2 separate regions of the Homo sapiens genome follow, and region 1 is linked to region 2. The links come from fine-mapping of genetic effects on gene expression. A gene starts in region 2. The other region holds a variant in brackets. All regions are shown on one strand. Distances are between the middles of the regions.

Region 1 (10,531 bases), 21 kb before region 2:
CCTGGCACCGTGCCATCTGCCATCTGCACAGAGAATATGTGAATGACCCGGCAGAGCGCCCGTGGGGTGGGCCTGCCTCCTGAGACCCTGGTGCGCACTCTCTGCTGCTCTGAGCTTTGATGAAGCTGTTCTTCACCATGAGAATGTACTACCTGAATGAATTCAGAGGCTGGGTGTGGTGGCTCACGCCCGTAATCCCAATACTCTGGGAGGCTGAGGCAGGAGGATTACTTGAGCCCAGGAGGTCAAGACCAGCCTGGGCAACACAGGGAGACTGCCTCTCAGAAAACACACACAGAGAGAAGGAAAAGCCACAGAGCTGGGCTCAAATGCCCAACCTGCTACTTATTCCAGTAGCCACGCGACTTTGGGCAAGGCACTCGCTCTCTCTGAACAGGCTTCTCTCTCTTAGAACAAACGAAATCCCACAGCCTCCCAGGGCTGCTGTGAGAATCAGGCAGCGCGGGAGGCGCAGGCAGCGCGGGAGGCGCAGGCAGCGCGGGAGGCGCAGGCAGCGCGGGAGGCGCAGGCAGCGCGGGAGGCGCAGGCAGCGCGGGAGGCGCAGGCAGCGCGGGAGGCGCAGGCAGCGCGGGAGGCGCAGGCAGCGCGGGAGGCGCAGGCAGCGCGGGAGGCGCAGGCAGCGCGGGAGGCGCAGGCAGCGCGGGAGGCGCAGGCAGCGCGGGAGGCGCAGGCAGCGCGGGAGGCGCAGGCAGCGCGGGAGGCGCAGGCAGCGCGGGAGGCGCAGGCAGCGCGGGAGGCGCAGGCAGCGCGGGAGGCGCAGGCAGCGCGGGCTCTGTGCAGTCCCTGACCCGAGGCACCCATCTTCTGTGTGGTCAGCATTCACAGGCAAGACACACGAGTCCGCGCTCATACCTTGTGTGCCAGGCGGTCCTGCACCTCACACTCCACGTCCAGCACCTCACTCTCCGCTGACAGGTCCGTAAGGACATCCTGTAAAAAGGGCGTTGCAGAAGCGGCCGTCAGCCTGTGATGGGCAGGGTGGGAGAATGACAGGTGGTCCCTGCTCCTGACACTTCTGTGGAGGATGGCGGGGATGGCACCATCTCCTAGTTCGGTCCTGGGACTGAACCCTAAACTAAAGAGGGAAACCCAGCGGTGGCTCCTGAGGGCCCTGATGGCACGACCAGCTCTGGGCCAGGCGTGAAGGGTGGAGGGGACCATGGAGTGTGCCTAAGACACGCCCTGCGCCTTCCCCATCACACACACGTATTCTAAGGACCCCGTGGCACAGAACCTGTGCCAGGGTTCTGAACAAAGCCTGGTTCCCGTCCTCAGGAGCCCCGTAACAGGTGAAACCGTGGAGAGGAGGAGGCCTAGACTAGCACCACAGCAAGGGCCAGGCAGTGCCGAGTCAGAGGATGGGGCACAGCCCAGGCGCAGGGGCAGCTCCCTGGAGGAGGTGACGCCACAGCCAGACCCGAAGGAAGAGGTTGTTGTGAAAGCAGAGAGGACAGGCGGCGTCCTCCCAACAGGGGCAGCAGGACCCGCTGGCTGGGGCCCTGGGCACGGCTCCACACCAGCCATATTTGAAAAGGTCCACAGGCGAGTGCTGTGCTGCTGGGCTGGAGGCCCCGGCAGCAGCGTCCAGGCTGCGGAGTGGGCATGGGGGAGGCTGCTGGGTAAAGCACCCAGAGCTGTGATAAGAAACACAAACTTGATGTTAAAGACAGTGGGCCCAAGCATAGAAAAGCGCAAAAACACATCCTCTGCAGCAACGGATGCAGCTGCGGGCCATCATCCTCAGCGAATTAACGCAGACAGAGAAAAGCAAACACCGCATGGTCTGATGCGACGGTGGAAGCTCAACATTGGGTATTCATGGACACAAAGAGGGGACAATAGACACTGGGGCTACTAGAGGAGGGCAGGGGAAGGAATGAAAACCTAACCACTGGGTACTATGCTCAGTACCTGGGAGACGGGATCAACAGTACCCCAAACCTCAGCGTCACACAGTATACCCAGCTACAAATCTGCACATGTACCCTCTGAATCTAAAATAAAAGTTGGAATTAAAAAAAGAACATTTAAAGATAAATCCATAAAGGCAATGGGAAGCCACTGGAGGTATCTGAGCAGGACGGTAAGATCCGATCCGTGTTCTAGAGTGAGTCCTTGGTGGACAGGACAATGGACAGACGCTGAGGTGAGTGGATGGCTACAGCCCAGGAGTCCAAGACCAGCCTGGGCAACATAGTGAGATCCTGTCTCTACAAAAATAGAAAAAATTAGCTGGGTGTAGTGGCACATGCCTGTATTCCCAGCTACTTGAGAGGCTGAGGCAGGAGGATCACTTGAGCCCAAGAGGTGGAGGCTGCAGTGAGCTGACTGTACCATCGTACTCCACCCTGGGCAACAGAGCAAGACCCTGTCTTAGAAACAAACAAACAATCAAACAGACTGGGGAGATGAGACTAGACAAGGACGGAGATGGGAAGCTAGAGGACTGGGGCCAAAAGCGGGGCCATGGCGCTGGAAATGGAGAGAGGGCCACATAGGCTGGGGCAGGAAGTTCACACACAGCAGACAGGGCGCACAGAAACCACAGACGACGCCACTGCTTCTTTTGAGACAGAGTCTCGATCTGTCGCCACGCTGGAGTGCAATGGCGCAATCTCAGCTCACTGTAACCTCCACCTCCCGGGTTCAAGCAATTCTCCTGCCTCAGCCTCCTGAGTATCTGGGATTACAGGTTCCCGCCACCATGCCCGGCTAATTTTTTTTTTTTTTCTGAGACAGGGTCTCACTCTGTCTCCAGGCTGGAGTGCAGTGGTGCAATCTCGACTCACTGCAACCTCCGCCTCCCGGGTTCAAGTGATTCTCCTGCCTCAGCCTCCTGAGTAGCTGGGACTACAGGAGCCCACCACCATGCCTGGCTAATTTTCTGTATTTTTAGTAGAGACGGGGTTTCACCATGTTGGACAGGATGGTGTCGATCTCTTGACCTTGTGATCCACCCACCTTGGCCTCCCAAAGTGCTGGGATTACAGGCGCCACTGCTTCTTAAATGGGCAATGGGGGGACGATGGCAGAGCTGACGTGAACAGGGCGCCCCCCGGGAGGAGCAGCCCTGTGGGAAGTGTGGCTTCTCTGGTGCCTCCCGGGAGACCCACAGATGGCTCCTGAAGATGCAAGTTTGGGGTCCTGGCCCTGGACTTAGGGGGGCTACCCCAGAGCCAGTCAGGAGCAGAAGAGGGCTGAGCACACAGGCTCTGGAGTCTCAACTCATTTTCTGGGTCAGCAGAGAAGAACGGGAAGTGAGACTGAGGAGTGGCCAGGAGGAAACCGGAATGGAGAGAAGAAAGCTTTGACAAGGAAAGCGTCACCTGGCATCTCCAAGGGGCCCAGGAGTATGGACTGAGGAAGACAGAAGAGGGGCCATGGGCTGGGGATGGATGTCGGCAGTCCTGACCTCACCTGGAGAACGGCAGGCCACGAGGGCCTGTGAGGATCCAAACCGGGAGCCTCCAGCGGGGCTGGTGGCCAGGGGCGTGACTCTCTGCAGCAAGACTGACTCACTGCCGCCATCTGGCTCTGGTGCAGAAATTCCCCGGGAGGGCTCCCGGGTGTGGGGCCTGGCTGGGCTCAGGGAAGTTAGGCAGGGAGGGGTCAAGCAGGTGCCCTCTGGGAGCTCCTGTGGCGGGGGGGCCAACCTGCTGGCCGCTCTGCTGCTGACAGTTCTCAGTGAAGATGAAACAGCTTCATCCCTTTTTGCAAAGGGAGTATTTCCCAACCCCAGGCTCACATCCTCATTTTCTGTCCTCACCATTTTCCCCTGTGTCTCATGCGGTTACTGACGGATTTCCCCAGCCGAGCAGCTGTGGGCTCCCGCTCCCGCACCCACTCCCAGGGCTGGAAAGTCAGGTTCCAACGTTACCTGCAGAGACATGGTCCCCCTCACAGCGACCACAACAGACTCTTTCCTGTGATCCAGAGCCACTAAAAACGGCAGCTCGTAAACCTGCAGGAGCAAGAAACAAGCATGGGGCCTAAACAGTGAACACACGCACCAGCACGCAAAGTCGGAGCCCTGCAGTGTCTGCAATGACAGCCCAAGTCCTGCGGCACAGAGAGGAGGGGACACCGCCTCTCCACTCACGCTCACTACACAGTGGGACCCACTCTGGCAGGGACTGGCCTTCATAAACCATGCTGCTCTACATGAAAAAGGATCTTTGTTTTCTTAGCCTCTCTCTGACCTCCCCAGAGATTCGGATTGAACTGGCCCAGGGTGCGGCCTGGACCTCAGCAGTGTTAAAAGCTCCTCAAGAGGTTCTACTGGGCAGCAAAGTGGGAGAGCCGCCGATCTGCGCCAGCAGGCCTCCCGCTGCGGTGCCTATGAGAATCACCTGGAGAGACAGCGAGCGACACTGAACACGCAGCACTGCAGCCATGCACAGCTGGCTTTTTTTTTTGAGATGGCATCTTGCTCTGTCACCTAGGCTGGAGTGCAATGGCGCAATCTCAACTCACTGTAACCTCCGCCTCCCGGATTCAAGTGATTCTCATGCCTCAGCCTCCCGACCAGCAGAGACTACAGGCGCCTGCCACCACGCCCAGCTAATTTTTGTATTTTTAGTAGAGATGGGGTTTCACCATATTGGCCAGGCTGGTCTCGAACTCCTGACCTTATGATCCACCCGCCTCGGCCTCTCAAAGTGCTGGGATTACAGGCGTGAGCCACTGTGCCCGGCCCACAGCTGGCTTTTGCAGCTTCTCCCAAGGTGACAGTGACCCCCCCAGAGTGCCAGACCTGCTACACTACACTACTGATGGCACTCACAACCCAGGACGACGATACGAATCCCAGAAGGCCATGCGGCATTAATACTGAGGGATTTCACTCCTCAACAGAAGGGCGAGGTAAGAAACACAGCGCGCTATCTCTGATGAAGACGTCTCTATCTTATGTGAAACCTGGGTTCTGAACCTGCACCAGGGCATCTGTGTGGCTCCCCCAGAGTCTGTGGCCCCTCTGAAATAGTACACAGGACTTAGAAGTGTGTTTGTGTGTCTATGAATTACGGGAAGAATAATTCATAACTTCCATCAGAATCTCTAACAGCTCCAGGACCCAAAAGAAGTGAAGAGCCGCTGTCTGCAGCGTCCACACCTTGTCATGGAAGCTGACGTGGATGAAGTCCCTGTACTGCAGCCCTGTGGTGTGCAGGATGGAGCCGAAGTGACAGTTGAGCTGATCGCCTCCGACCAAGTCATAGTCTGTGGTTCTGCTTCTGCAGCTAAAAAGAGGACAAAGACGTTACTATGCCGAACAGAGCCACTTGGCAAGGAACGTCCATCCTCACTGCCACATGTTCCCAGAGACGCGAGGACCAGAGCGGACAATTCTCAGGACTTAGCCTGGCTGACATGGAATGGCTTTTTAAAACTTAATTTGATCGACTGACTGATTGAGATGGAGCCTCACTCTGTCACCCAGGCTGGAGTACCGTGGTACAATCTCAGGTCACCGCAACCTCCGCCTCCCAGGTTCAGGCGATTCCCCTGCCTCAGCCTCCTGAGTAGCTGGGATTACATGCGTGCACCTCCATGCCCGGCTAGTTTTTGTATTTTCAGTACAGATAGAGTTTCGCCATGTTGGCCAGGATGGTTTTAAACTCCTGACCTCAGGCGAACTGCCCGTCTTGGCCTCCCAAAGTGCTGGGATTATAAGCGTGAGCCACTGCACTGGGCCCGGAATGGCTTATTAAAGATAATACCTCTCTGTGTACACTTCTTGGATAGAGTTCTGACTTCTGGCATCATGTTAATGATTTCTATATTCAAAAAATTCATCAACAAGGATGGGCAAGTCCCTAAAACTGAATGCCAACAGAAGCAGGTAAAGCAAACCTGTCCAAATGAACAGCACAGCCAACTCCGTAGAAAATAAACAAGAAATCATAGAAGTAACTTTTGAGTACTGTGCTCTACGTTTAAAAAACAAAAAGAGGCCGGGCGTGGTGGCTGATGCCTGTAATCCGGCACTCTGGGAGATCGAGGCAGGTGGATCACCTGAAGTCAGGAGTTCGAGACCAGTCTGGCCAACGTGCTGGAACCCCACCTCTACTAAAAATACAAAACTCAGCCAGGTGTGGTGGCAGGCGCCTGTAATCCCAGCTACTCGGGACGCTGAGGCAGGAGACTTGCTTGCAACTGGGAGGCAGAGGTTGCAGTGAACTGAGATCGCGCCACTGCACTCCAGCCTAGGTGACAGAGTGAGACTCCGTCTCAAAAAATACAATTAAATTAAATTAAAATAAATAAAAATAAAAACTAAAAAAACTACAAACACATCGCAAACTGTACTTAG[C/T]AGATGCCCTTTTTGTAGTGGAACTGGGTATAGCAATTCTGAAACTATTTTCTTAGTAATAGGGGACTGAGCATGGGTAACTCACGCTGATGTTGCTGGGAGCCAAGCTTCTCTTTGCAGACATGATGTGGAGAAGCAAAGAGAAACTCTGTGGCTTTGGACTAGAATTAAAAGATATCAGGGCCAGGAGACTGACACCCATGATGCCAGCACTTTGGGAGGCTGAGGCGGGAGGATCGCTCAAGTGTTGGAGACCAGCCTGGGCCACAAAGCAAAACTGTCTCTAAAAAGAAATTTATTAATTTAAAACATTTTTAAAAATTATCTGGGTCTGGCAGTGCATGCCTGTAGTCCCAGCTACTTGGGAGGCTGAGGTGAGAGAACCCCGTCTCTTAAAAGACAAACAAAAAAAAGATATTAGTAAAATCTCATGATCTTTAAAATAAATACATAGGCGTGGTGGCTTACACCTGTAATCCCAGGACTTTGGGAGACCGAGGCAGGTGAATCACTTGAGCCCAGGAGGTTGAGGGTATGGTGTTACAGTAAGCCGTGATGATACCACTATACTCTAGCCTGGGCAACAGTCCCAAAAAAAGAAAAAGCAAAATCCAGAGGTTAGGAAGTGCTCAGAACATGATGGGGTCATATGAAAAGAACACTGGAGCCAGTCTGCAGGACAAAATCTGGAACATTTTGAGCATCAAATAAACACTGTACTTAATACAAAATAAACAGTCATAATTACAACCCACTGAATAATTTAAGAATCTATAAATCCATATTGACAGTAAGATGTAGGGATAAAAAGCTCTTTTTTATAGGAGAATGACAATTAATGTAGAAGAAATGATGAATTTAGAAAAATCACAATTTTGGCCAGGTGCGGTGGCTCATGCCTGTAATCCAACCACTTTGGGAGGCCAAGGCGAGTGGATCACCTGAGGTCAGGAGTTCGACCAGCCTGGCCAACACAGCGAAAACCTGTCTCTATTAAAATTACAAAAAACTAGCCGAGTATGGTGGTGCAGGCCTGTAATCCCAGCTACTCGGGAGGCTGAGGCAGGAGAATCACTTGAACCTGGGAGATGGAGGTTGCAGTGAGCCAGGATCCTGAGACTCTGTCTCAAAAAAAAAAAAAAAAAAAAGAAAGAAAGAAAGAAAAAGAAAAATCATGATTTTGCCACCATCCTGGTAATAAGTGATTCAGACAAGAATCAATGGATGCTGTACTGCCAGATGAGAATTCAGAGAGGGATAGGACATTTACTTACTTGTTTTTTGTTTTGTTTTGGTTTCTTTTTTTTTTTTCTTTTTGAGACAGAATCTTGCTCTGTTGCTTAGGCTGCAGGGCAATGGTGTGATCTCCACTCACTGCAACCTCCAACTCCCTGGTTCAAGCGATTCTCCTGCCTCAACCTCCCGAGTAGCTGTGATTACAGGTGTGTGCAACCATGTCCAGCTAATTTCTGTATTTTTAGTAGAGACGGGGTGTCACCGTGTTGGTCAGGATGGTCTTGAACTCCTGACCTCAGGTGATCAGCCCGCCTTGGCCTCCCAAAGTGCTGGGATTATAGGCATGAGCCACTGCACCTGGTGGGATATAGACATATATATTTATTTAATTTATTTTTTAAGACAGCGTCTTGCTCTGTCACTCAGGCTGGAGTACAGTGGTGCAACCCCAGCTCACTGCAACCTCAGCCTCCTGGGCTCAAGTGTTTCTCCTGCCTCAGCCTCCCAAGCACCTGGGACTACAGGTACACACTGTTACACCCAGCTAATTTTTATATTTTTAGTGAGATGGAGTTTTGCCAGGTTGCCCAGGCTGGTCTCAAACTCCTGAGCTCAAGTGATCCGCTGGCCTCGACCTCCCAAAATGCTGGGATTACAGGTCTGAGCCACCACGCCCGGCCTGGGACAAGATATTTAAATGGTCTCAAGGCTGGCAGTCACCACCTCAGCCAAGCAATCAATGTTAATATAACCAGAAATGGGACAAACTGGCATCATGTATCCCCTGATATGATACACTAGGAAGGATGGTTGTCATGGACCATTCCCGCCAAAAATGCAAAACATAAATCTAATCATGGGGAAACCATCACACAAATGCAAATTGAAGGCCCTTCTACAAAATATCTGCACTGTCCTCTTCAAAATGTCAATATCATGAAAGGAAAGAACGGCTGAGAAACTTAAAACTTGAAGGAGACCAAAGAGACACAGCAACTAGATGTAACGCATCATCCTGGATTGGAGAAAAAAATTGCTAAAAAGGGTATTACTGGGGCTGGGCACAGTGGCTCACACCTTGTAATCCCAGAACTCTGGGAGGCTGAGGCAGGCAGATCACTTGAGGTCAGGAGTTTGAGACCAGCCCGGTCAACATGGGGAAATCCTGTCTCTACTAAACATACAAAAATTACCTGAGACCGGGCCTGGTGGCTGACGCCTGTAATCTCAGTACTTTGGGAGGGTGAGGCAGGTGAACCACAAGGTCAGGAGTTCCAGACCAGCCTGGCCAACATAGTGAAACCCCGTCTCTACTAAAAATAGAAAATTAGCCGGGTGTGGCCGGGCGTGGTGGCTCATGTTTGTAATCCCAGCACTTTGGGAGGCCGAGGCAGACGGATCACGAGGTCAGGAGATCGAGACCATCCTGGCTAACACGGTGAAACCCCATCTCTACTAAAAATACAAAAAATTAGCCAGCAGTGGTGGCGGGCGCCTGTAGTCCCAGTTACTCGGGAGGCTGAGGCAGGAGAATGGCGTGAACCAGGGAGGCGGAGCTTGCAGTGAGCCGAGATTGTGCCACTGCACTCCAGCCTGGGCAACAGAGTGAAACTCCATCTCAAAAAATGAAAATTAGCCGGGCATGGTGGCGGGCACCTGTAATTCCAACTACTCAGGAGGCTGAGCCAGTAGCACCGCTTGAGCCTGGGAGACGGAGGTTGTGGTGAGCTGAGATCACGCCACTGCACTCCAGCCTGGGCAGCAAGGGTGAAACTCTGTCTCAAAAAGAGAAAAATAAAATGGTTCGGGGAAAAAAAATACATGTGCATATATATATATATATATATATATATATATATGCAGGGGGGAGGGAGGGAGGGAGAGAGAGAGAGAGAGAGATACAGCGCATGTGACCAGATGAGTCACAGCTGGTGACTCTAGGTAAAGGATTCATGGGAGTTCTTTGCACTGTTCTTTCAAATTTTTGAAATATCTCAAAATAGCTTTTTTTTTTAAGGGAAATATGGCTATGGAGGCTCAGACTGTGCCAACCCACCAGTCACCACCAATCCTGCACAGCCCCGTGAGGGGGTTTCTGTAGATGTAGAGGGGCCACCCATAGGCCGCTGCTGCAAACTGCATGTAATGATGGCAGTTTTCTAATTCTGCATCCAGATCAGCTTCCTACAAGAGAAGGACAAAAACTACTGTTTATTAAGGGAACTCCTGACACAGAGGATCAACACACTGAGACCTGAAACCTGAACTCATTCCTGACTCTTCCTGCTCCTTCGTTGAATAGAACTCTCAGACGCCCACAGGCAAAACTGCTCCTTCAATAAGGATGACATGGACTCCTCATTTTTTTTTTTTTTTAGAGTCTCGCTCTGTCACCAGGCTGGAGTGCAGTGGCACAATGTCAGCTCACTGCTACCTCCGCCTCCCAGGTTCAAGCAATTCCCCTGCCTCAGCCTCTCAAGTCGTTGAGACTACAGGCACCCGCCACCACACCCGGCTAATTTTTGTATTTTTAGTAGAGACGGGGTTTCACCATGTTGGCCAGGCTGGTCTCGAACTCCCGACCTCAGGTGATCAACCTGCCTTGGCCTCCCAAAGTGCTGGGAAGCCAGGCGTGAGCCACCACGCCCAGCCTGACTCCTCATTTTATAGGAACACAGCAAGCACGGGGAAGTTAACAGTAAAAAACACTCCAATGACTTCTCTGCTGTTTTTGCTGAAATGAGCCGGCGCTTCCTATCTAGATGCCTGAAACTAGTACATTTCCATGCCACTGCCACACACGAGCTGTCAAGAACTGAGTGGCTTAACCCGGAGCAGCGAAGATACATACCGTCTACGTGCAATTTTCTTTCTCAAAAACATAACAACCTGTGGCAGGAAAATTATCACCAAGCAAAGCTGAACTGCTTCTGCCCCCAGCCCCAGAGAAGAAAGCAAACA
Region 2 (10,172 bases):
AGCCAGGAGAGCGACGATAAATGGCTTTTGGATCCTTCCTAGAGGGGCAAGGAAGCACTTCCCCAGAACCTTCCACCAAACTCTCCCTGACTCTCACTGGGCCAAACTGGGTCACGTGTCCATTCCTGAACCAATCACCAATACGTGAGCCCGGCCTAGGGTCTGCTTCTCTGACGCATACTTGGTATGTGTGGGATGGGGGCAAAACAAAACGGGGTTCTGTTTGGAGGAGGCTGTGGGATAGACAACCCAGAACACTCCGACAACCCACAGATGACTTCTGAGCTCTGACCACAAGTACATGATGATGCAAGCATTGTACGAGTGTCTAGGAAGAGGGAACGGAGTGAATATGAGCATCCCTCACAGGGAGGTAAAGACGTCCCAACACCAAAAATATCTCAACACAAACAAACATGTAAGGAAAAAAAAAAGTACACCGACTGCTTCCACTCTGACCCTGCTATTACAGCCACAAACTCAGTGGTCTAACCAGAATGTGAGATGAACAAAAAAGGGCAAATAAGTTAGATAATGCTGTATCTGAAATGACACCAGTCTCAATACTTCACCTTCAATAAGAAGCTTCCCAGCGCTGAAGCCACACTGTACACATGGTTTCTTTCTTTCCTTAAGCATCTGGCACCAATGACAGCCTACATTTGGGGGCCAACACAAACGTGGAGCCTCCATCAATCCAGCCTCCTTGCGTGGATGTTTCTAGAGGCATACTAAAATACACAGAGCTAGCTGGGTGCAGTGGCTCACACCTGTAATACCAGCACTTTGGGAGGATGAGGTGGGTGGATCAGCTAAGGTCAGGAGTTCGAGACCAGCCTGGCCAACATGGTTCAACTTTGTCTCTACTAGACCAGGTGCAGTGGCTCACGCCTATAATCCCAGCACTTTGGGAGGCTGAGGCGGGCGGATCACGAGGTCAAGAGATGGAGACCATCCTGGCTAACACAGTGAAACCCCGTCTCTTCTAAAAATACAAAAAAAAAAAAAAAAATAGCCAGGCACGGTGGCGGGCGCCTGTAGTCCCAGCTACTTGGGAGGCTGAGGCAGGAGAATGGCGTGAACCCGGGAGGCGGAGCTTACAGTGAGCCGAGATAGAGATAGTGCCACTGCAGTCCAGCCTGGGTGAAAGAGCGAGACTCCATCCGGAAAAAAAAAACAAAAAACAAAAAAAACAAAACAAAACAAACAAAAAACTTTGTCTCTACTAAAAAAAAAAAAAAAAAAAAAAAAGAAACTGTCTCTACTAAAAATACAAAAAAATTAGCTGGGTGTGGTGGCACGTGCCTGTAATCTCAGCTAGTTGGGAGGCTGAGGCAGAATTGTTTGAATCTGGGAGGCAGAGGTTGGTTGCAGTGAGCTGAGATTACGCCATTGCAGTCCAGCCCTGGGCAACAAGGGCAAAACTCTGTCTCAAAAGAAAAAAGTAAAATAAAATACACAGAGCTCTGTTTTCTATGTTACTGTGGTAATCAGGCACATGCCACTCTTGCTGGTCATCCCAAACCCTAAGGTCTTTTTCTCATGAAAGATGTTGCTGCTAACATTTCTACCCTCTACATTGCTCCTATGAGCTAACACCTTTTACATTTCAGTCCTTTATTCCAAACTGTCAAGATCTTGATGCCGTCACTCACTGTATCACCAGCGCCTCCCAGTGCACCTCACCACCAGCATATATCTGATATGCATACCTCGTCCATCCCAATTCAAGCAGTGACAAAGGACTAAAACATGGCGGATGGTGGCATGTCACACAGCCCTGCCTCTGACCAATGAATCATTTCTAAGAATGCATTCCTTTATTAGTCACCACAGTGCTCACATCATCCTATGAAGCAGAGGAATCCAACAGGGAAGGTTTCCAACACTTCTGGAGACATTCTCAGATAAATGGTTATCTACAGAAAACTGTAACACATATAAAAAATATGAAGAATAGGTGATCAGACGCGGTGGTTCACCCCTGTAATCCTAGCATTTTGGGAGACCGAGACGAGAGGATCACCTGAGCCCAGGAGTTCAAGATCAGTCTAAGCTATATAGCAAGACCCTGTCTCTACAAAAAATAAAAATAAAAAAAATTAGCCAGGTATGGTGGCACGTGCCTGTACTTCCAGCTACTTGGGGGTTGAGAAGAGAGGATTGCTTGAGCCCAGGTATTTGAGGCTGCAGTGAGCTATGATTGCGCCACTGCCCTCTAGCCTGGGCAACAGAGCAAGACACTGTCTCTAACAACAACAAAATAGTTGTAACCCTCACAATGTAAAAATAAAAGGGACCAGGCGCGGTGACTCACACTTGTAATCCTAGCACTTTGGGAGGTCGAAGCGGGTGGATCACGTGAGGTCAGGAGATCGAGACAAGCCTGACCAACATGGTAAAACCGCATCTCTACTAAAAATACAAAAATTAGCCAGGCGTGGTAGCGGGTGCCTGTAATCCCAGCTACATGGGAGGCTGAGGCACAAGAATCACTTGAACCCAGGAGACGGAGGCTGCAGTGAGCAGAGAGCACGCCACTGCACTCCAGCCTGCGCAGCGGAGGGAGACTCTATCTCAAAAAATAAAAATAAAAAATAAAAGGATCAATAGCCTAGTCTAAAATTGGGCAAAAGATCTGAACAGACATTTCCGCAAAAATGATACACAAATGAGCAATAAGCAAATGAAAGGATGCTCAACATCATTAGTCACCAAAGAAATGTTCCTCAAAGCCATGAGACAAAAAACAAATGGCCTGTGGCCCCAGCTATTCGGGAGGCTGAGGCAGGAGAATCACTTGAACCCGGGAGGCAGAGGTTACAGTGAGCCGAGATTGCGCCATGGCACTCCAGCCTGGGTGACAGAGTGTGACTCCGTCTCAAAAAAACAAAACAAAACACAACAAAACAAAATCATGAGCTACCACTTCACATTCACTAGGATGGCTATAATTAACAAGTCATATAATAAGAGCGTTGGGCAATTAGAACCCTTATACACTGCTGGTGGGAATGTAAAATGGTACAGCTGCTTGGAAAAGTCTGGCAGTTCCTCAAAAGGTTTCACAGAGCATTAACACATGATCCAGCAATTCACTCCTAGGTACACACTCAAGAGAAATGAAAACATGTCTGTATAAACACTTGTATGCGAATGTTCATAGCTGCACTATTCGTAATAGGTGAAAAATGGAAACAATCCAAATGCCTACCAAATGGCAAAGGGATAAATAAAATGTGGTCCATTCATTCGATGCTCTTATTCAGCCATCAAAATGAAGTACTGATACATGCTAAAACATCGATGAATCTTGAAGACATTATGCTAAGCTTAAGAAACCAGACCAAAAGGCCACACAGTGAATAAATTCCACTTATATGATGTCCACAATAGGCAAATGTACACAGACAGAAAGCAAATTAGTGAATGCTTAGGGTTGGGAGAGTTTGGGGAAAATGAGGAGTGACTGCTAATGGGTATGGGATCTCTTTCTTTCCGTTTTGTGACAGAGTCTCCACTCTGTCACTCAGGCTGGAGTACGGTGGCATGATCTCAGCTCCCTAGCAGCTGGGATTACAAGCATGCACCAACATAATTTTCTCTATTTTTAGTAGAGACGTAGAGATGGGGTTCCACTGTGTTGGCCAGGCTAGTCTCATGCTCCTGGCCTCAAGTGATCCACCCACCTCGGCTTCCCAAAGTGCTGGGATTACAGGTGTGAGCCACTGTGTCCCGCCTGGTACAGGATTTCTTTCAGGAGTGAAGAAAATGGTATAAACTTGATGATGGTGATGGCTGCACAACTCTGTGATTATATTAAAAACTGTTGAATTGGAAAGTTTACAGAAGTGAATTGTATGGTATGTGAATTATATCTCAATAAAGCTATAAAAAAATAGGTATCAAATAGAAAAGGCTACTTTTTACCTCTCATGCTGACACACATGATGGCTGACACAGTACATATGACAACTGCCAGGAGAATCATGAGGACGATCAAGTAACTGCTGAGCAAGGCTCCACCAGCACAGTCCAGCTTTCCTCTGTGCATGAGATACAACGTCAGAATGCCAATCCACCTGGCAAAAAAAAAAAAGGGAAGGGTCAGAAATGAAATCCAAGGAGCTGCTGTGTAGAACATGATACAAAGAAATAAAAGGGGACAGGGCGCGGTGGCTCACACCTGTAATCACAGCACTTTGGGAGGGTGAGGTGGGCGGATCACAAGGTCAGGAGATCGAGACCATCCTGATCAACATGGTGAAACCCTGTCTCTACGAAAAATACAAAAAAAAAAAAAAAAATAGCTGGGCGTAGTGGTGCGCACCTGTAGTCCCAGCTACTCGAGAGGCTGAGACAGGAGAATTGCTTGAACCTGGGACGTGGAGGTGGCAGTGAGCCGAGATCGTGTCACTGCACTCCAGCCTGGGCAACGATATGAGACTCCGTCTCAAAAAAAAAAAAAAAAAAAAAAAAAAAAAAAAAGAAATAAAAGGAGTTAATATTTTCCAAAACAAGGCAAGGTTCACTTTGGAATATAATTTTCTTTTTGTAGAGACAGGGTCTTGCTATGTTGCCCAGACTGGTCTTGAACTCCTGGCTTCAAGTGATCTTCCTGCCTTGGCCTCCCAAAGTGCTGGGATTACAGGCATGAATCACTGCACCTGGCCTGGAATATAATTGCCAACAATAAAAGATCTAGGCCCGGCACGGCGGCTCACGTCTGTAATCCTAGCACTTTGGGAGGCCAAGGCAGGAGGATCACTTGAGCACAAGAGTTGGACACTAGCCTGGGCAACACGGTGAGACTCCATCTCTACAAAAAATAGAAAAAGTTAGCTGGGCGTGGTGGCACGAGTCTGTGGTCCCAGCTACTTGGAAGAGTGAAGTGGGAAGATCGCTTGAGCCCAGGAGGTTGAGGCTGCAGTGAGTGGTGATCGCACCACTGCACTCCCGCCTGGGTAGCAGAGTGAGACCCTGTCTCAAAAAAATAAAAAGAAAAGGGGTCTCACTATGTTGCCCAGGTTGGTCTCAAACTCCTGCCCTCAAGCAATCCTCCCGTCTCAGCCTCTCAATGTGCTGAGATAACAGGCGTGAGCCATGGCGCCCAGCCAAGAATCTACTTTTGCATAACAATGATTCATTCCCTGCACAGATCCTCTGGGAACAGACTTCAGGTACCAATGCCACTTCCCACTGATTCCACACTTTGAAAGACAACAGCGTTGTATGTTGAGCCTGTCTGCTTCTCACGAAATGCAGCCACAACCGGCTCGGTATTTTTTCCTATCCTTCGTGTTGCAGATTCAAGTGCCCCGTACAAAGGGAAGGAAGGGCACAAGTGGCTGCTCCCGCCTCAAGAAAGGAGAACTCGAGGCCAAGGCTTTTGCCGGCGGTAACACCCTCGTGGCACCCCAGGGCCAGGTCTCGGCGCTGCACACAAAGGGGTGCTCGCGTCCTGCTGCGCGGACTTCGAAACCCCCTGTTTGTCCCCCGGGGTCAGCCCACACACTCTGGGGGCTTCGGTTTGTCATCCGTCAAATGGACACAGCACCACTGCCCACCTCTTCGGGCAGTGGTGAGAACTCGATAAGAGGATGCGTGGCCAGCGCTGGGACCGCGACAGTGCTTGGGAAGCCACTTCTGTCACCGTCTCAAGGGACAGCTCGCCCCCCGCTCCCTCTCCGGTGGGCTCCACCGCCCCCGTAGCCGCCGTCCTTACCACAGCACTCGCACGACCAGCTCGAAGAACCCTGGGAAGACCAAGTCGTCGCTGGCGATGGCCCAGCGCCGGCCGAAGAGTACCATCCCCGGCATGGCGAAGGTCCCGTAGCTCGCACTCAGGAGAGACCCCGCGCGCCGTTCACCGAGAACAAACCAGCACCCTCCGGACGCCGCCACCAAATTATCGGCGCTCAAGCGCAAACGCAGCGAGGGCGGGGACCTGCGCATGCTCACGCTGAGGCCGAGATCGGCGCAAGCGCACTGAGCCCTACACCGCCTCTTCCGCCGGAGCTGTCTGCGCCTGCGCAGAAACGCTGATCCGGAAGGCGCTGGCTGAGTCGATTGCAGGTCTGCCGGTCGGTGAAATCCGTTCTGGTATTTTCTTTTTCTTTTTCGTGAAGAGTGCAGTGATATCCGTTCTGGTGATATTTCCTTTTCCTTTTTTTTTTTTTTTTTTTTTTTTTTTTTTTTTTTTTTTTGGTGACGGAGTCTCGCTCTGTTCCCAGGCTGGAGTGCAGTGGGTGTGATCTCGGCTCACTGCATCCTCCGCCTCCCGGGCTCAAGCGATTCACCTGTCTCAGGCTCCGGTGTAGCTGTGATTACAGGAGCGCGCCACCACGGCTAATTTTTGTATTTTTAGTAGAGACGAAGTTTCACCATGTTGGCCAGGCTGGTCTCGAACCCCTGACCTCAAGTGATCCGCCCGCCTGGGCCTCTCAAAGTGCTAGGATTACAGGCGTGAACCACTGCGCCCGGCCCTGTTTGTCTGTTTGTTTAAGGCAGCGTATGGCTCTGTCGTTCAGGGTGGAGTGCAGTGGCGCAATCATGACTCACTGCAGCCTTGAACTCCTGAATGCCGCCTTGAATTCCTGGATTCCAGCGACTCTCCCACCTCAACCTCCTGAGTAGCTGAGACCAAAGGCACGTGCCACACTCCCGGCTAATTTATTTTTATTTATTTATTTATTTATTTATTTATTTATTTAGAGACATAGTTTTGCTCTTGTTGCCCCAGGCTGGAGTGCAATGGCGCGATCTTGGTTCACCACAACCTCCATCTCCTGGGTTCAAGCGATTCTCCTGCCTCAGCCTCCTGAGTAGCTGGGATTACAGGCATGTGTCACCATGCCCAGCTAATTTTGTATTTTTAGTAGAGATGGGGTTTCTCCATAAATTTTCCTATTTTTTGTAGAGACCGGAGTCTCACTCTGTTGCCCAGGCCGGTCTTGAACTCCTGGCCTCAAACCATCCTCCCGCCGCAGCCTCCCAAAGTGCTGGTATTACAGGCGTGAGCCACTACACCTGACCGAAATTTTCATTTTATAAGGAGGGACGCTTCAGGCCTGGAGGAATTAGCTAGCCTAGAGACCCAGGCTGTCAATGGCAGGTGTGGGACTCATATCCCGTTCTGTGAGACTTGCAAGCATGGGACAACATTGCTTCCATCTGTGCCCCTTGCTGTAAGGAGCCCGTGTTAGGAACCCCTCGAGTTCAGGGTCTGAAACCACCCTGCAGCTGGCGGGGTGGAGTCTGAGCGCTTTTCAGTACCCCCACTGCCCCACCCTGGTCTGAGCCACCTTCATCTCCTGCCTGGGCTCATCACCCCACTGTGCTTTCTCATTCTGCTGTGCCCTCTTCAGCAGCCAGGGTGACTTTGTGAACCTTCAGATAAAGCCTGCACCCTGCCTGGGACTTTGCAAGGCTGCACTTTGTGCATAAAATTACATTGCAGGCCAGGCGCGGTGCCTCACGCCTGTAATCCCAACACTTTGGGAGGCTAAGGTGGGCGAATCACGAGGTCAGGAGGAGATCGAGACCATCTTAGCCAACATGGTGAAACCTCGTCTCTACTAAAATTTAAAAAAAAAGTTAGCCAAGTGTGGTGGCACGCACCTGTAGTCCTGGCTACTTGGGAGGCTGAGGCAGGGGAATCGCTTGAACCTGGGAGGCAGAGGTTGCAGTGAGCCAAGATCGCGCCCTGCACTCTAGCCTGGCAACAGAGCAAGACTCCGTCTCAAAAAAAAAAAAAAAATTACACTCCAGCCCCTGGCAAAGGCCTTTCCCTGGTAGTCACACATCAAAAGTTTGTAAGGGCTCATTTATCTGTCTCCCTGGTTACTATTTGCCTCTATCACCCACCCCACTGCCTGCCGCCTTTTCCCCCTCTGAAAAGACATCAGGGTCATTTTTGCTCCAGGGGTTCTACATTCTGTGTTTCCTCTGCCAGGAATAGCCCCCCTGCAGGTTTTCTGTTACTGGATGGAAAGTCTTGGCTGTGAGTTGGTCAGGGGCTTGCGTGTTGAACCGAGAATTGCAACACAAGGCCGGGCACGGTGACTCACGCCTGTAATCTCAGCACTTTGGGGAGGCCGAGGCGGGTGGATCACCTGAGGTCAGGGGTTCAAGACCAGCCTGGCCAACACGGCGAAACCCTGTCTCTACTGAAAATACAAAAACTAGGCCAGGCACGGTGGCTCATGCCTGTAATCCCAACACTTTGGGAGGCTGAGGCAGGAGGATCACCTGAAGTCAGGAGTTCAAGACCAGCCTGGCCAACATGGCGAAACCCCGTCTCTCCTAAAAATTAGCTGGATGTGGTGGCACATGCCTGTAATTCCAGCTACTCCGGAGGCTGAGGCAGGGGAATCGCTTGAACCTGGGAGGCGGAGGTTGCAGTGAGCCAAGATCGCGCCCTGCACTCTAGCCTGGCAACAGAGCAAGACTCCGTCTCAAAAAAAAAAAAAAAATTACACTCCAGCCCCTGGCAAAGGCCTTTCCCTGGTAGTCACACATCAAAAGTTTGTAAGGGCTCATTTATCTGTCTCCCTGGTTACTATTTGCCTCTATCACCCACCCCACTGCCTGCCGCCTTTTCCCCCTCTGAAAAGACATCAGGGTCATTTTTGCTCCAGGGGTTCTACATTCTGTGTTTCCTCTGCCAGGAAGAGTCCTCCTGCAGGTTTTCTGTTACTGGATGGAAAGTCTTGGCTGTGAGTTGGTCAGGGGCTTGCGCGTTGAACCGAGAATTGCAACACAAGGCCGGGCACGGTGACTCACCCCTATAATCTCAGCACTTTGGGGAGGCCGAGGCGGGTGGATCACCTGAGGTCAGGGGTTCAAGACCAGCCTGGCCAACATGGCGAAACCCTGTCTCTACTGAAAATACAAAAACTAGGCCAGGCACGGTGGCTCATGCCTGTAATCCCAACACTTTGGGAGGCTGAGGCAGGAGGATCACTTGAAGTCAGGAGTTCAAGACCAGCCTGGCCAACATGGCGAAACCCCGTCTCTCCTAAAAATTAGCTGGATGTGGTGGCACATGCCTGTAATCCCAGCTACTCGGGAGGCTGAGGCAGGAGAATTGCTTGAACCCGGGAGATGGAGGTTGCAGTGACCCAAAATCACACCACTGCACTCCAGCCTGGGCAACAAGAGCAAAACTCCATCTCAAAAATAATAAATAAATAAAAATTGCAACAAAAACCCCACAAAGCAACAACGACAACAACAAAAAACAAATCAACAAAAGACAAACAAATGGCGTAAAAAGCACAGATTGATTGACACGAAGTTCAAGAGACCACACAGCTCAAGAGACCCCTCAATTAGGGTCTTCATTAAGCAGAAAGAATGTGGTTAACACTCATGGCTGAAGTGGAAACTTCTGTCTTGTTATCACAGAAGTGCAGATGTGGCCTCTATGCTGCCTTATCTTGCCCAGAACTGGCTGCACCTGCTGATCTTTTGCTTATGCCTTAACCCTTGTTAACCATTGATTACCCTCATTCCTGATTCTCCTGCCTCATTTCCTTTTTTTTTTTTTTTGAGATGGAGTCTTGTTCTGTGGCCTAGGTGGGAATGCCATGGCGCGATCTGAGTTCTGCAACCTCAGCCTTCTGAGTTCAAGCGATTCTCCTGCCTCAGCATTCTGAGTAGCTGGGATTATAGGCATATGCCACCATGCACAGCTAATTTTTGTATTTTTAGTAGAGACAGGGTTTTGCCATGTTGGCCTTGGCTGGTCTCGAACTCCTGACCTCAAGTGATCCGCCCACCTCAGCTTCCCAAAGTACTGGGATTACAGGCGTGAGCCACCGCACCCAGCCTCTCCTGCCTCTTTTTTTGTTTTTGTTTTTTTTGTTTTTTTTGAGACGGAGTCTCGCTCTGTCGCCAGGCTGGAGTGTAGGGCGCGATCTCGGCTCACTGCAACCCCCGCCTCCTGGGTTCAAGCGATTCTTCTGCCTCAGCCTCCCTAGTAGCTGGGACTACAGGCATGGGCCACCACGCCCGGCTAATTTTTGTATTTTTAGCAGAGACGGATTTCACCATGTTGGCCAAGACGGTTTCGATCTCTTGACCTCGTGATCCACCTGCCTCGGGCTCCCAAAGTGCTGGGATTACAGGCATAAACCACCGTGGCCGGCCCGATTTTTGTATTTTTAGTA

The links. PIP is the estimated chance that this variant, and not a neighbour inherited with it, causes the effect.
Region 1: its variant is fine-mapped to the expression of DAGLB in whole blood (TOPMed, PIP 0.95).

What each region holds. Positions count from the first base shown.
Region 1 is chr7:6,420,854-6,431,384 of GRCh38, forward strand. DAGLB (diacylglycerol lipase beta) reads right to left here. Exons shown (of 15, transcript NM_139179.4): 6 at 9,627-9,754; 7 at 5,135-5,261; 8 at 3,899-3,982; 9 at 874-951. Among named protein-coding and RNA genes, the nearest start is that of DAGLB, 22 kb to the right of the region's middle. RefSeq lists an enhancer at 3,667-4,166. The variant C/T (reference allele first, on the strand shown) is at 6,335.
Region 2 is chr7:6,442,023-6,452,194 of GRCh38, forward strand. It overlaps DAGLB (diacylglycerol lipase beta), which reads right to left and starts at 5,932. Exons shown (of 15, transcript NM_139179.4): 1 at 5,726-5,932; 2 at 3,931-4,082. The coding sequence starts at 5,820. RefSeq lists an enhancer at 6,140-6,189.